Homo sapiens: one gene and its partners. The protein of the gene in region 1 purifies or fractionates together with the protein of each later gene. This does not show direct contact. Each region holds a gene or a part of one and is shown on either strand. Other genes may lie near its edges. The genes, in order: ASCC3, CLEC3A and PVALB.

The links.
Region 2: the proteins of ASCC3 (region 1) and CLEC3A purify together in Homo sapiens (co-immunoprecipitation; one large-scale study listed by IntAct). This does not show direct contact.
Region 3: the proteins of ASCC3 (region 1) and PVALB purify together in Homo sapiens (affinity purification with mass spectrometry; one large-scale study listed by BioGRID and IntAct). This does not show direct contact.

The regions. Positions count from the first base shown.
Region 1 is NC_000006.12:100,647,239-100,650,893, reverse strand, and holds part of ASCC3 (activating signal cointegrator 1 complex subunit 3), read left to right. Parts: intron 1-179; coding exon 180-356; intron 357-3,442; coding exon 3,443-3,655. UniProt on the Homo sapiens protein: ATPase involved both in DNA repair and rescue of stalled ribosomes. 3'-5' DNA helicase involved in repair of alkylated DNA: promotes DNA unwinding to generate single-stranded substrate needed for ALKBH3, enabling ALKBH3 to process alkylated N3-methylcytosine (3mC) within double-stranded regions.
Region 2 is NC_000016.10:78,025,510-78,029,164, reverse strand, and holds part of CLEC3A (C-type lectin domain family 3 member A precursor), read right to left. Parts: intron 1,059-3,655; coding exon 975-1,058; intron 1-974. UniProt on the Homo sapiens protein: Promotes cell adhesion to laminin-332 and fibronectin.
Region 3 is NC_000022.11:36,807,004-36,810,658, reverse strand, and holds part of PVALB (parvalbumin alpha), read left to right. Parts: intron 1-3,655. UniProt on the Homo sapiens protein: In muscle, parvalbumin is thought to be involved in relaxation after contraction. It binds two calcium ions.

The DNA of each region.
Region 1 (3,655 bases):
TTCATATTGCAGTTTTTTAGCTACCTATGGAAAAATCATTGTTATTTAACTCTATGAAAGAAAAATGCTGCATTATAGTAAATGGAAACTCTTTAAAAACATGCAATGTATTTAATTTCAATGTGAAAAATTTAAATAAATCAGCCCCAAAATTCCAATAAATACATTGATTCTTCTAGGTCAGAGAAGAGGAAATAGAGGAGTTAGATACCTTATTAAGCAATTTTTGTGAACTCTCCACTCCTGGAGGTGTAGAGAATAGTTATGGGAAAATAAACATCTTACTTCAAACTTATATCAGCCGAGGAGAAATGGACAGTTTCTCCCTTATATCAGATTCTGCATATGTTGCACAGGTAAGTATCTTATTCCCTTCCAGTTTTCTCTTCCTTGAATATATTTAGAGGACCAAGGTGTTAATTCATGCTGTGCTATGAATGCATTGCTTTGTGACATGCTACCAAACCACCATTTTACTTAGAACTGTTTCTGCTAATTTGTAAATATTTTATGTAATCTATGCTCATAAAACAGGACTGGGGATGAGATTTGGTGACTGATAGGGCTTTTTTTGGTGATGTTGATGTTTCTTACAAAGTTTTAAAATGATACCTGATTTTTTTCTACTTTAAATGATGAATTTCATTTCTTTTACTTATAAAGTAAAAGAATATAAAGTACTTATAAAGAGAAAAGTTAAAGAATATTGCAAGCATAAAGAAAAGATTGTGGAACTTTTTTAGATTTTTACCAAATATTAGAAATAATAATATTTTTAATCATTAAACAAGGCGTAGTAAACATATTTCCTACCATACGTTCAGTGTGATGTCTCTGGTTTTTACAAAAGTAATCTCTCCTCTCTACTGTTGAAACTTAAACATTGAGGACAGAAAGAAAATTATTCCCTAAACTACAGCTCATTTAATTTATAACTTTTAAAAAATACCATGGTATAAACTGTTCAAATATTTGTGTTTTTATATTCAAGCCCTTATGTGAAGTAAAGTAGGTTATATTTTACCCTATTTATCCTTCAAATGAAAGATTTCCCTTCTAGACATACTTTTTTAAAAAAATTATTTACCTGTCAAGGCTTTTTAATTTTATTTTATTGAGTACTTCCTTTTATAAATTAAGAAGAAATTAAAGCTTAATTTTATTTTAAATATGGAAATGATTCTGCTGTTATATTTGTAATTTTGTTCAAAGAAAGACTAAATATAGAAAAAGAATGTTTGTGTTAAATATATCATTATTAATAGCCATGAGTACTCAGGAGTCCTTTAAACATGGAATATTTACAAACACAAACCAAGACATATTGGTAAACATTTTGAATGCATGTAGTAATTTAATCAATGTAACCAAGATACCAGGTTATATAATTCATAAATTATATAAAGTTAATATAGATGTAGTGAAAATATTTATATATTCTTTAAACCCTATAGCTTCTATAGGAATAATTTTCTAATCTCCTTTGTTTTATCTGTTTTTCTGTAAAGTAATGTAATATTGTCATTTTATATTTTCTAATGATTTTATATTGAAATAGTTAATCATTTAAATAAAAGGTAAAGTTTTACTGGGTTCTGGATGAATAATCTGGCAACATTTCTGCTTGCTTCAAGATTATGAAGATATTATCAGAGACTGACATAAGAATTGCTTACAATGTAAAACTTTAATTCTCTTCATGATTGGTATCCAGGAAGTCAACTTCTGATTAAGGATATCTCAAAGCATCCCTGTTTTTTCTTAAACAGCCATTATGGATTTAGCATCCCTGAATGCATCAGATAAATTATACTTTATTACATTTTAAGTTTAAGCTATCAGTAATTGAACAACTACTCTCTCAACTCTGTAAAATGATATTTTCTTCTATATTTTTTAAACTTTCTCTCCTCAGCCCCTAAGGTAAACCTATAGCTCAAATATTCTAGGATTTTATTTAAAGGCCTATGCTTAACTTTTCTAGACTGTACATGTTATAGACTTATTATTTTGAACCAATTTATATCATTCTAGATTAACATGTCCTGTTTGTATCTTGTCATATGGAATTTCTCCTACTTCTTTTAGCATTGAGGGGATAACTGTAGATCCTGAAATATTAAAATGACATACTTTCAAAGGCAGGAAAATTAGCCTGATAGTTTTTTGTAAGAACAAGTGGGAATGAGGTAGGAAAACCTATTTGGTAGATACAGTAATCAAAATTTTATTTATTATTCTCTGGGCCTTATAAAGACCCATTCAGTCATTTTTAATGGATATCAGAACTGTCCTCATACTTCTATCTACCATTTTGTACTTTAATTTCTAATACTGAAACAAAATAGTCAAATTTATCAAAAGACAGCGCATATCTTATATAAAATGTGAAATGAAAGCCTTTAACTCATCTGTCATTTTTGACTTCATAATTTTAGGCTGGATTGTTTGTCTGCCATTTGAAATCTTTTCAGTTTTGTATCTCTTGTTTGGATTTTAACCAGACTGAACATTCTTTATTTTCAAATACAGATGTTACTGGATTTTGGAAGGTATAAGTTCATTTAAAAAACAATCTTTAATAAAACAATCTGCAAAGTTAATGATAGAGGAGTGGAGGCAAAATAAATGGGAGCTAGCTGTAGAAATGTGAAGAAAAAGACTACATTCATTATAACTTTCTATATGTCTATTAATAAAGTTATCCTCAGACCACTGAGTCTAGAATCTCAGTTATATTTGGAGTCCTTTAGTCCTGGCTTTGAGTAGATGCTCTGACACCAACTAGCAGTGTGACCTTGGTCAAATTTTTTACCTCTTTAAGCCCTAGTATATTCATCTATAAAATCATAATATTAATATCAATTAAATGCAATTTTTGTAAAAGTTAAATGAGGCAATATATGTAAAGCAAGTTAACACATTGTTTGGTTTATAGGAAGCCATTTGTATGGCCCTTTCATATGAGTAGCTACACTAATCAGTATTTCATTTGTCACCCTTCTCTCATTATTTTTTTTCCCTATCAGGATCCCAGTCTTCCTTAATCCTCTAAATAGCCTTGTAAATTTAATCATTCCACTATTCACCAAGAGGCGTCCTTGTCTCTTATAGTCAGATGCCTTAACAGCCTCCTAAATATTTTGCATGCCTTTTGTCTCTTCCTACTTCATTCCTGTTTAGAAGGTAGAGCTTTCTAAGAACTTGGAAATAAGGCTTCCCCTCTGAGAGTAAGCAAGTAGCATCCACATATAAAGGATAGGATTATTCTTATGTAGAAATAATAAGATAATTAGGATTATATGAGAAAAGATATTGCCCCACAATTCAAGGATGCAGCTTGACTTGCACTTCTTTTCAGACTGAGTTTGAATAATAGATTTATTGACAAATTTAAAAGCACATTGGGTATAACCACCAATCTCCTCCTATAATTTTTTAGAATGCAGCTAGAATTGTCCGTGCTCTTTTTGAAATTGCTCTGAGGAAACGTTGGCCTACCATGACCTACAGGCTCCTGAATCTTAGTAAAGTCATTGACAAGAGGCTTTGGGGTTGGGCTAGCCCTTTGAGACAATTTTCAATCCTACCACCACACATCCTAACAAGATTAGAAGAAAAAAAGCTTACTGTGGATAAGCTGAAAGACATGAGG
Region 2 (3,655 bases), on another chromosome or scaffold:
TTGAACAAATTACTTACCTTCTTTGTGCCTCATTTTCCTCATCTGTAAAATTAGGATCATAATAGCTTAAGTTGCTGGAGGATTAATGGATTTGTGTTTATAAAGAATTTCTAGTACCTGACTGTGGGTAAAGGATGAACCAAACTCACCTTCTGCATAAGCATTTGACTGTCTTTTAACTTTCTAATTCTGTTCCCCCGGAAGCCTGATAAAGGGAGTATGTCACCCTTGTTACTAGGCAACATTGCTTGTGGTAAAAATGACCCCAGGTTGGTAACATGCATCTGGTCTGGGAGTTATAAATACTTGATGGAAAGCCGTAACTTCAGTCTTCCCTGAAGGCAGTAACTTGTAATGAGGCAGGTCTCTTGTGAGGAACCTCAACACCTTGCTTTTGAAATTGCTACAAAGGATATTAGCTCCTTGGGGGATGAGCCTTGTAAACCAGGGCTGTTCCCAAACCTGCCCACATGGCTCACTTCCTCACCCCTTGGAGAATAGCTCCTGGGCAGTAGCGCATGTGGCTGCATAACTGTGGGGAGGAACGCTGGCGCTGCCCTGTTGGCAAGCTGCGGTTCTAACCCATGTCCTTCCAGCATCTTAGGCTGGGTGTGGCCCGAGAGAGTCCTGGTGGCCTGATAGGCACTTAGCTATCATCCAATAAATGCTAATCATTTTAGTCATTTCATACTGGCTTCATTCTGTTTCACTACTCTTTAGAGAATAAGTATGGACTGACTTTTCAAATTTATTCCTGAACTACTTATTTTTATTTCTATACCACCCATATATAGGAGAATGGGATTGTAAATGAAGCTGATTTCCTAAAACAATCATCTCCCGGCATTGGGGCCCTCTTATTGGCCACATTATTGATTTGTCAATGTTTCTTTTAAAAAGACGTCCCCCAGAAATTGACCCAGAAATTTTCCTGTCTCCTTTGGGACAAGGCACTGAGAAGGTCTGCACCTTACCTGTCTGCAGGGCTTGAATTTCCTTCAAGGCATTGACTTCTGTCCAGAGCTTTTCAATTTGAGTCTTCAGATCTCCATCCTTGTCTGGGGAAAATTTTAGGGTGGGATGGGGTAGGTGGATGAAAAGCGTATGATTAAAATAAAATCAAGCTTTGGAATGTAGGACCCAAGGCAATAGTGGTTTTGGTGAACCTGAGCCCAGTGTATACAAAAAATAATGCGTGAAAATAACTTGGGGCTGGCGAAGTGGCTCACGCCTGTAATCCCAGCACTTGGGGAGGCCAAGGCGGGTGGACCACTTGAGGCCAGGAGTTCGAGACCAGCCTGGCCAACATAGCAAAACCCTGTCTCTACTAAAAGTATAAAAATTAGCTGGGCATGGTGTTGAATGCCTGTAATTCCAGCTATTTGGGAAGCTGAGGCATGAGAACTGCTTCAACTTGGGAGGCAGAGGTTGCAGTGAGCAAAGATCATTCCACTGCACTCCAGCCTTGGTGAGGGAGTGAAACTCTGTCTGAAAAAAAACCAAACAAACAAAAAAACAATGAATGAAGGAAAGAAGGAAGGAAAAAAAGAAAAAGAAAATAACTTGGACAGGAAGATTCTTAAGAGCTTCATGGCAATCATAATACTAGAAGGTCCTTCTGTGAGATGAGGCTCCTTCTGTCTCTCCAGTCACATCCTGTGACTCTAGGCTTGTTGACTTTCAGGGTCATCTGAGAATGAGCTCAATCTCATCTTCCCTGTGTGTTCCTTCTGCTAGGATCACTCTTGCTCCAGCGCTTTCCTGTATTCTTAGCAAGCTTAAATATCTCCTCTTCTGAGAAGGCTTTCCTGGTTATACTATAATTTAGTATCCCTTCTGCTAATCTGTCTTTGAAACTTATTTTTCTTCATTCTCTAGTCTCAGTTCACATTTTATTTTATTCCATATTTTATAGAGTATTCTGTATATTTTCTTTTCTCTATTTTACTTTATTTCATCTGTCTTATTATTCTTGGTTCTTCTGATGCTTAACATGATACTTGGTACATAATAGGTGTTCATAATATTGTCTAGTGAATACACACTTTATGGTATACAAAATTGTTTTCACTTGCTCTTCAAACATAGCTATGAAGGGAGAAAAATTGGATTCCCACTGAAGAATGAGGACAAGTCCAATGAGAGTGTCTCAAAAGATACATGGCAGAATTCATACTCTGACTGATTTGGGTCCCCAGGTCCCCTGTCCCCAGTGTTCCGACTCAACACATGCCTCAGGTATGGTGGCTACTAGCAGGGTTAAGTGCTAAAGGTTCATATAGAAATACGTCTATATTAGGTATTAGCAACTTAAGTCTTGTATGTTCCTGGATGAGGCTAAAGGATCTTTATAGCTGTCCTTGACCAATCTTGGCTATAAGTAAGTGGCAGAAAACAAGAAGCCTTGGATAAATTGAAATTTCAGGTGTAATAAGGATTCTCTTAGAGATTGGCAGCTTGTGAGGTCTTCAAAAGCAGGAATTATAAATCATAACAAAAATTATTAAAAGCTTCCACATACTGTTTGTCAGAGATCAATTCTTTCAGTAGTGCTTTGAGAGAGACACAATCATTGTCTCCATTCTGCAGAAGAAAGAGTCCCGGAAAGCTGAATTCACCTGCTGAAGGTCACCCAGCTAGTAAAGTGAAGAATTGGGATTTAAATTTGCCCAGCTCCAGGCCTGTTCTCATTTCATCCCTCTTACCTGCTTCTGCACAGTGATTGCCTCTACCTTCTTGGTCCCGAGCACATGGCCCCAGACAGAGAAGATACTTAAAGCTTGGTATGAACTGTTCCCAGCTGCTTCTTTGTGGGGATTCCATGGAGGAAGTCTATGTTCTGTACTGGATTTTTCAGGACAGTCTAAAATTCACATGTGCTAATTCACTGTCCCCTTAAACATGTGCTTCATAAGCCAGATGTTTCCTCATTTGGGTTAGGAAGCTGTCTTCTGGAATATCCAGGGGTGGCCCCTGCCTCTGTTTTACTTAATGCTACACATCAGTTCTCAAAGCATCCCATGGCTCAGCTCAGAAATACTATAACCTAAAGATTTTTACCTGTGTGACCATTTAATCCAGAAAAAATGTAAGGGTGCATTCAGAATGCAAATTCATCAGCTGGTGGGGGCCGGGCTTGCAAAGACTGCTGAACACTTTCTTCCAAGGTATAAGCTGTCACCTCTAAAAATGTCATCCCCCATCCCTCTCAGCTTCCTGCTCCATTCTCCTTAAATAAGTGGCCTCTACTGGGAGATTGTAAACATTGTAATTAACATGAAGACACATGAATTGATATTAGGCTCCTGGGAGATGGTTATGAAATTCATTGTCCAGGGACTTGGCTGTAGCTTCCATCCTTTGTAGCTGATATAGATGTCTTTTATGTACAACAAACAAAGGGAATATGTGGAACAACTACTGAGCTGGAAAAGTCATATTTTATTCATGAATGCAACACATAAATTGAGACCTATGAAGCAAGTACCAGAGAGATCTTGTGTTTGAAGCTAAATTCTTCGGTTGCTATTTTGAGTCCCCCAGAAGGCTCCCTTTCATTTTACTGTTGCTCTCCAGAGGTAGACACAGTGTAGAAACACAAAAGTCATTCCCAGAAGACATGGCCAGTAAAACCATTATATGATGTTGGACTGTC
Region 3 (3,655 bases), on another chromosome or scaffold:
GTGCAGATGTAGAAAGGGCAGCCCAGGGAGTGAGTGCAAGGTCACAATGCCAGCAAGTGTCAGGGCCAGGATTCAAACCCAACAGCATGGTCCAGGCCCACCTGTGCAGCCTCCATTGAGCTCATAGGCAAGACATAAAATAGACAATGAGCACAGACCACCCTGAGGCACTGGGGCCCCACACTTCATGCTTTTGAGGTGGGAAGATGCAGATGCCCCCTTCCTCACTCCCAACCCCCTAACGCAGGAAGGGTGGGTGCAATGATGCCCAATAGGCAGCGAGATGGGAAGCAGAGCCTTTTTGGGGCCCAGGACGTTCTGTTTCAGATACTCTGCTTTGCTGTCACTCTCTCTAAAGGCCAGAAGGCCCGAGCCCCACCTATAGCTGGAAGATGCCTTCAACTCCTGGCGGGATCTGGGGCATGTCCCAGAGCCCCTCTGACCATAAAGTGCCTTGTCTTTAAAACCATGGGGCATGCCGGGCGCAGTGGCTCATGCCTGTAATCCCAGCACTTTGGGAGTCCAAGGCGGGCAGATCACAAGGTCAGGAGTTCGAGACCAGCCTGGCCAACATGGTGAAACCCCACCTCTACTAAAAATACAAAAATTAGCCAGGCGTGGTGGCACACACCTGTAATCCCAGCTACTCAAGAGGCTGAGGCAGGAGAATCACTTGAACCCAGGAGGCGGAGGTTGCAGTGAGCCAAGATCACACCACTGCACTCCAGCCTGGACAGCAGAGCTAGACTCCATCTCAAAAACAAAACAAAACAAAACGAAAAACCAAAAAAAAAAAAAAAAAACATGGGACATGGGGCAGATCACTAGCCAATTACTGGGGTGCGTTCCAGCCCCGGGATTTCACAGATGTCTCAGTGGATAAACCTCTACACAGAAGACCACTTCACTATTTTGGCTCAGCTGCGTGACCTTGAGTGATGATGGCAATAGCATCTAAGTTCATAGAGCGCTCAATATGTGCCAGGCACCGTGCTTAGCATTTCACTCATTTAATCTTCCTAGCTATCTCTGAAGTGTATACTATTATGATTCCCATTTTATAGATGAGCACACTGAGGCTCAGAGAGGCTAAGGGCTTGCATAAACCCTTTAGGCTAGGAAGAGAAAAGATCAAAGTCTGAAAGTCGGGTCTTTTGAGCTCCGAAGCACGTGACCTGTGCTGCCTGCTTCATTCATTCATTCATTCATTCATAGTTTAATTTACTATAAGATGATTATATTTATTGACTTATTGCCTATTTCTTTCTCCTCCACTAAGATGTCAGGTCCACTGAGCAGGAACTTTGTTTTTTTCAGTTCTAATCCCAGCACCTAGAATAGGGCCTGGCCCATAGTGGGAGAAAAAGAAAAGTGTATTTGGTTGAATGAATGAATGAATGAATGAACAAGTACCCAGCTCTGGGCAGCACTGTGCAGTGATGAGGATCATAACTGCTGTATGTAGTGGGAGATGATCTGCAAGCCAAGGTTGGGGATCTGTGGAGACTTGTCTGTAGCAGGTGCCAGGGAGCCCAAACCAGGGACTGCCTCTCTTCCCTGCTCTGTTTGTCCTTCTGAAGGTGAGTGATACTTATCAGTTTCTTGAAGATCCTGTATTGAAGGGAGGGGGTAGGAAGACAAAGTTCTAATAATAACCCTTTGCATTCCCGTCTCTGGGGCAACTACTTCCAGGAAGCTCAAAGGCTTTTATAGATGTGGTTGATTCATTCTCAAAGGCCACCCTAAAAGGCTGGTGCAGAGCTGACATGGGGAGGGCTTAAGGCTGAAAAGGAAAGAGAAGCTAGAAAAAGAGGTGAAGGGTGCCAAAAAAAAATCTTTGTTAAAGCACCTGCAGTTGCAAAGCCCAGGCATAAAAAGCAGACAAAGCAGACTATGTGGCAGGTGGCTTTTCAAACACTTCACCTTCACAACAGGTCTCCAGCTGGGAGCGGGTGTCAGCATCACCTGGAGGGCCTATGGCAACACAGATGGCTGTGCCAGACCCCAGGAGTTTCTGATTCCTTAGGTGGAGCCCACACTTTTGCATTTCTTACAAGTTAGCAGATGGTGCTAATGATCTGGCGAACCACACTTAGAAGACCACTGCCTTACAATAATCCTAGGAAGTAGATGCCGTCACTATCCCCATTTTGCAAGTGGAGAAACTGAGGCATCGTGAGAAGTGACATGCCCAGGGTCTCTCTGTAGCAGAGCTAGAACTGAGGCTCGGTGGTCCAGCCAGGACCCTCTGCCATCCTGCCTCACACGAGCATGTGTCCCCAGCCTGGGCCTTCCAAACTCAATGCCTGCCCCCGCAGAGTGTGTTGACCAACAGGAATCGAGGTTAGCATTCATCCCCACTTCCTGTGTGCCAAGTACAGCACACAGGCCTTACATCTTTTAACTCATTCAAACCTCCCAACAGCTCTACAAGATATTTTTGTTACTGATACATACAAGGAATCTGAGGCCCCGGGAAGCAGAGCGACTTGCTGTGAAGCCTCAGGGCCCTCTTCAAACCTTGACTCCTAATATCTTGCTGCAGAGAAGATCCGCATGCCCCGTGTGCACACGTGCCTGCACGCAGTCCTAGTTACATTCTTCCTGAAACCCATTCCCGGCGATGGATCCACTGCCCTCTGCTTTAAGTGTGTCTCAACTCAAGAGTTTGGGGTTTGCATTTTGCTTCTGTTGCTGAAACATGTAGTCATCATTATTGCCTAACCTTGCAACCCCCCCACCCCTTGCCACTCACTCGCATGCCTGAAGGAATTTGCCTTTTCTGCTTCCCTCTGGCAAAATCTGTTCCCTTTTATCCTTAAGTAGCCTATTTACCGTGAGAGGCGTGAGAGGCGGAGTGGTAGCGTAAGGCCTTGGGCTGTGGTGGAGCACCTGAGTCAGGCAGAAATTAGAAAGCCAAATGCTGGGGATCAGCCGTGGGAATGGCTGTATCTTTTCCTCTCTCAGGACATCCATTCCCACACCTGGAAAGTGGGGAGAAAAATACACACCTTACAGGGCTGTTGCTCGAATGAAGAGAATGTTCTAGAAATGATTCCTTTCCTCTTATTTTATGGGAATGTTTTGCTCGTAAGCCACCCAAAACCTTTTAAAAGTGGTGGAATCTCAATCCTCAACAGAAAGGAAATTGAGTCTAAAGCAGGAGAAAAGTGAGAGAGATAGAAGGAGAATTTGCCGTTCTCCCTGTAATTCTAGCCCTCCGGCCTCTATGGGGATTTGATTTCTAAGTAGGACAGGATGCTCAGATCAAGGCTAGCCCAGGGTTTTGAGGGCAGAGCCCTAAGGTGCACGATGCTTTGTCCCATCTCATTGCACCCTGGTACCAGCTCAATGAGGTTTAGGGGACACTGTGATGCCCACTGAGAGACTTGAAAACTGAGGCCCCGTAGACAGTAAGTGCCAAAGTCACATAGAAGTCCTTGGCCCAACGGGACCCGGGTCTCCTGACTCCACCACTCCCTCCCCTAAGCTGAGCTGAGACGTTTTAGTTATAAATGGCTTCTGTGCTTAGCAATCTGCTCTTTTTATTCCCGTGTGGACTTTCCCTAGCTCTGGCCTTATGCTGCACTAGAAAAGATTTAGCAAGGGGAGAGGAAGCAGCCTTCCTTACATAACTGGCCTCTTGTGAAAGGGA